2 separate regions of the Homo sapiens genome follow, and region 1 is linked to region 2. The links come from fine-mapping of genetic effects on gene expression. Tissue or cell type: whole blood. Region 2 holds a variant in brackets; the other region holds the start of a gene. All regions are shown on one strand. Distances are between the middles of the regions.

Region 1 (2,740 bases), 52 kb after region 2:
GTGTGTTGTGTGGTGTGTGTGTGGTGTGTGTGTGTGTGTGTGTGTGTGTAAAGTTAGTGATCTTACAAACCTGAGTACCCTCTGCTCTGGCCCGTGAGCCTGACATTTTTTTTCAGTGTGTGTGTGTGTGTGTGTGTGTGTGTTGTGTGTGTGTGTGTAAAGTTAGTGATCTTACAAACCTAGCTGAGTACCCTCTGCTCTGGCCCGTGAGCCTGACATTTTTTTTCAGTGTGTGTGTGTGTTGTGTGTGTGTGTGTGTGTAAAGTTAGTGATCTTACAAACCTAGCTGAGTACCCTCTGCTCTGGCCCGTGAGCCTGATATTTTTTTCAGTGTGTGTGTGTGTGTGTGTGTGTGTGTGTGTAAAGTTAGTGATCTCACAAACCTAGCTGAGTACCCTCTGCTCTGGCCCGTGAGCCTGATATTTTTTTCAGTGTGTGTGTGTGTGTGTGTGTGTGTGTGTAAAGTTAGTGATCTCACAAACCTAGCTGAGTACCCTCTGCTCTGGCCCGTGAGCCTTAATCCTAGCGAGGGCTCGCTGCGGTGGTCTAAGGGCCTCCAGATCCCACCCGGGTAGGACTTCGCACAGATGCAGCTCCCGCGCCGGGAGTGAGCCCATCCTGGCACCCGTGTGCACAGTCACCCTCGAATCACGGCTGAACGGCATCCGACGCGAGTGGCTTCCTGCCTCTATTCTACCCATCTCCTTACTCAGGACGCCATCGCGGGTTTCCCAGGGCCAACCATTCCCGCCGCGCCACCCTAAGACGCGCCCGGCGCCCAAACACTGAGGAAGCGGGTGGGGTCCCCTGCGGCCCCTGCAGCGGGAGGGGCGCCCGGACGTCACAGCAGGGCCGCCCGCCCGCCTCGCGGCCTCCCGCCTCCCGCCCCGCGGACCCCGCGCGTCCCCCGCGCTCCTTCCGTGGCCCAGGTCCCAGGCGAGCTCCGCCCCTCAGACCAGCGCGCTCGAGGTCGCCCCGCCACAGCCCGTCCTCTACCCGCCTCTGCTGGAAAACAGGCCGCAGAATATAGGTGTTCTCGGGCTCCCCTGCGTTCTTCTCAGCCTCAGGCACCCCGTCGCCCACCGAGAAGGACACTCCGATGGACGTGGCCATGCCGGGGCTTCTCGGTCCGGGCGTAGCTCGCGATGAAGGCCTAGCGGGTTGCGGTCGCGGCCGGCAGCAGGGAAAGCGTCTCCAGGGCAACAGGGCCGCCCTCCCGCCTCGCTGAAGCCCGCGAGCGCCCCGCACAGCCGCCCTCCCTGCCCGCGCCTGCGCACCGGCTGCTGGGCGGGAACTGGTCGCGTCCGGACGCGCGACAGCTTCCACCCGCCTCAGGCAGTATCAGCCGCGCCGCAGTCGGAGGAAATAGACGCGGGGCCTGAGGCTCCTGGACTTGAGGTATTAGGCTGGTGCAGAAGTAATTGCGGCGGCCGGGTGCGGGGGCTCAGGCCTGCAATCCCAGCACTTTGGGAGGCCGAGGCGGGCGGATCACCTGAGTCAGGAAGAGTTCAAGACCATCCTGGCCGACATGGTGAAACCCCATCTCTACTGAAAATACAAAAATTAGCCGGGCGTGGTGGCGCGTGCCTGTAACCCCAGCTGCTCTGGAGGCTGAGGCAGAATAATCTATTGAACCCAGGAGGCCGAGGTTGCAGTGAGCCGAGATCGCGCCACTGCACTCCAGCCTGGCGACAGAGCGAGACTGCGTCTCAAAAAAAGAAAAAAAAAAAAAAAGGAAGGAAGGAAAGAGACTTAGGCTGCATTCCCCGCTTTTAAAAATATATATTTATTTTTATTTTTTTAAACGAAGTCTCGCTCTGTCACTCAGGCTGGAGTGCAGAGGCGCGATCTCGGCTCACTGCAACCTCCACCTCCCAGGTTCAAGCAATTCTGCCTCAGCCTCCCAAGCAGCAGGGATTACAGGCGCGCCCCACCACGACCGGCTAATTTTTTTTGTATTTTTATTAGAGACGGGGTTTCACCATATTGGCCAGGCTGGTCTCCAACTCCTGACCTCAGGTGATCGCCCACCTCGGTCTCCCGAAGTGCTGGGATGACAGGCGTGAGCCATCGTACTCTGCCGCATTCCCTGCTTATAAGCACCAGTCCCTGGTCCTGTTTTAGAAGGCTGTTGTATCTTGGCCTCTGCTAGCTTCAAAAACTAAGGCCCGATGAGGTAGCTCGTGCCTGTAATCCCTGTTTACAGGAGAGGCTGAAAGGGCAGGGATTCCTTTTTTTTTTTTTCCCACTTGAGACAGGGTCTTGCTCTGTTTCTCAGGCTGGAGTGCAGTGGCACACTCACCGCTCACTTCAGCCTCGACCTCTTGGACTCAAGCAGTCCTCCCACCTCAGCCTCTGGAGTACCTGGAACTACAGGCGAATGCCACCGCGCGTGGCTAATCTTTTTAATTTTTGTAGAGATAGGATCTGGCTATGCTGCCCAGGCTACTATTGAACTCTTGGGCTCAAGTGATTATCCCACCTCAGCCTTCCGAAGTGCTGGGACTACAGGCATGAGCCATCACAGCCAGCTGGGATATTGTTTTTCGAATCGCTGTCATGTTCTGTACTATATGCAGTTCCTGAAAGAATGGAGGCAAGAAGGAGTCAGCTAACCACTGTGAACTGTCTTAGTGCCAAGGACCCACCCTTCTCTCCTTGGGGTCCTGCTGACCCATCAGAATAGGGCTGAGCCAGGATGGGGCTTGTGGAGATGATGTGTATGAGTGTGCATGCACTT
Region 2 (2,500 bases):
TGTAAATACTTTTGTGATCCTTTTGATTGAACCTTTAGAAACATCTGTATCAATAAATGATTTATACTTATCGACAAAATAGCCATAAAGTTTTTCCTAGTTTTTCCTTCTTAACTCCTTTGTCTCTTTTCTATCCATTTCATCCTGACCCACCAACCCAGGTATCTACTACTTGGTGATCCTTCCTATTCCTTTCTTTACATGCAAGGAAAGTACTTTTTCTAAAGCTAATGAGCTCCACCGGGTGTGGTGGCTCACGCCTGTCATCTCAGCACTTAGGGAGGCAGAGGTGGGCGGATAGCTTGAGCCCAGGGCAACAGAGCAAGTCCCCCTACCCTTTTTTTTTCTTTTTTGAGACGGAGTCTCGCTCTGTCGCCCAAGCTGGAGTGCAGTGGCGCGATCTCAGCTCACTTGCAAACTCCGCCTCCTGGGTTCACGCCATTCTCCTGCTTCAGCCTCCTGAGTAGCTGGGACTACAGGCGCCCACCACTGCGCCCAGCTAATTTTTGTATTTTTAGTAGAGACGAGGTTTCGTCATGTTGGCCAGACTGGTCTCGAACTCCTGACCTCAGGTGATCCGCCCACCTCAGCCTCCCGAAGTGCTGGGATGACAGGCGTGAGCCACTGTGCCTGGCCTGCAAGTGCCCATTAAAAAAAAATAAATAAACTAATGAGCTCTAGGCTATAGAATTCTACTCTATGCTCACATCTCATAAAAGGAAGGTCTTGTTTATCTTTACACGTCTACCACCTACTGCCATACTAGCGCATTGTAAATATGCAATAAAGGCCAGGTGCAGTAGCTCACGCCTGTAATCCCAGCACTTTGGGAGGTCGAGGCGGGCGGATCACGAGGTCAAGAGATCGAGACCATCCTGGCTAACACGGTGAAACCCCGTCTCTACTAAAAAATACAAAAAATTAGCCAGGCTTGGTGGCGGGCGCCTGTAGTCCCAGCCACTCGGGAGGCTGAGGCAGGAAAATGGCGTGAACCCAGGAGGCGGAGCTTGCAGTGAGCCGAGATCAGGCCACTGCACTCCAGCCTGGGCGACAGAGCAAGACTCCATCTCAAAAAAATAAATAAATAAAAATGCAAGAAAATCTTGCTTACTCAACCCAAATGTCAACTGGAGAATGAATAACTAAAAAGTAGTATGTGATATATGATGGAATGTTATTTGTCAATAAAAAAAAAATGAAGTACTGGC[C/T]GGACGTGGTGGCCCACACCTGTAATCCCAGCACTTCGGGAGGTTGAGGTGGGCGGATCACTTGAGGTCAGAAGTTTGAAACCAGCCTGAGCAACATGGTAAAACCCCATCTCTACTAAAAATACAAAAATTAGCCAGGCGTGGTGGCGGCGCATGCCTGTAGTCCCAGTTACTCAGGAGGCTAAGGCAGGAGAATCACTTGAACCTGGGAGGCCGAGATCACACCGCTGCATTCCAGCCTGGGCAACAGAGTGAGACTCTGTCTCAAAAAAAAAAATTGCCGGGCACGGTGGCTCACGCCTATAATCCCAGTACTTTGGGAGGCCGAGGCGGGCGGATTACCTGAGGTCAGGAGATCGAGACCATCCTGGCTAACATGGTGAAACCCCGTCTCTACCAAAAATAAAAATTAAAAAAAATCAGCCGGATGTGGTGGCTGGCGCCTGTAATCCCAGCTACCCGGGAGGGTGAGACAGGAGAATCACTTGAACCCAGGAGGCGGAGGTTGCAGTGAGCCGAGATTGCGCCACTGCACTCCAGCTTGGGCGACAGAGCGAGACTCAGTCTCAAAAAAAAAAAAAAAAAAAATTAAGTACTTGTACATGTTGCAGTACGAATGAATCTTCAAAACAAGCTCAGTGAAAGAAGCCAGCCCCAAAGACCACATACCGTATGATGTCATTTGTATGAATGTCCAGAACAGGCAAATCCACAGAATCAGAAAGCAGATTAGTGGCTTCCAGAGGCTGGAGAGACTGGGGGGAAATGGGGAGTGACTGCTAATGAGTACAGGCCTTCTTTCTGGGGTGATAAAAATATCCCAGGCCAGGCATGGTGGCTCACACCTGTAATCCCACACTGTGGCAGGCTGAGGCAGGAGAATCGCTTGATCCAGGAGACTGAGACCAGTCTGGGTAACATAGTGAGACCCCATCCCTACAAAAACAAATTTAAAAATTAGCCAAGCATGGTGATGTGCACCTATATTCCCAGCTACTTGGGAGGCTGAGGTGAGAGGACTGTTTGAGCCCAGAAAGTTGAGGCTGCAGTGAACTATGATCACACCACTGCACTGCAGCCTGGGTAACAGACCAAGACCCTGTCTCAAAAAAAAAAAGAAAAAAATTCTAAAATTGGTCATGGTGATGGTTGCACAACTCTGTGAATAAACTGAAAACCACTGAATTGTATACTGTAAATGATATGTCAATTATAACTCAATAAAGCTGTTAAAAAAAGAAAAAAGTCTTGCTTGCTTTTGTTATAGAGTTCAAAGGAGATTCAGAGCTAGA

The links. PIP is the estimated chance that this variant, and not a neighbour inherited with it, causes the effect.
Region 1: DYNLT2B starts here. The variant in region 2 is fine-mapped to the expression of DYNLT2B in whole blood (TOPMed, PIP above 0.99).

Annotation. Positions count from the first base shown.
Region 1 is chr3:196,317,040-196,319,779 of GRCh38, forward strand. DYNLT2B (dynein light chain Tctex-type 2B) reads right to left here and starts at 1,201. Exons shown (of 5, transcript NM_152773.5): 1 at 1,001-1,201. The coding sequence starts at 1,113. All of the region lies in intron 5 of TM4SF19-DYNLT2B (TM4SF19-DYNLT2B readthrough (NMD candidate)), which reads right to left. It overlaps TM4SF19-AS1 (TM4SF19 antisense RNA 1), which reads left to right and starts at 1,293. Exons shown (of 2, transcript NR_046724.1): 1 at 1,293-1,398. It overlaps LOC107986031 (a long non-coding RNA gene), which reads right to left and starts at 552. Exons shown (of 2, transcript XR_001740547.2): 1 at 1-552. RefSeq lists a silencer at 721-970 and an enhancer at 1,031-1,130.
Region 2 is chr3:196,265,403-196,267,902 of GRCh38, forward strand. All of the region lies in intron 2 of PCYT1A (phosphate cytidylyltransferase 1A, choline), which reads right to left. Among named protein-coding and RNA genes, the nearest start is that of PCYT1A, 21 kb to the right of the region's middle. The variant C/T (reference allele first, on the strand shown) is at 1,209.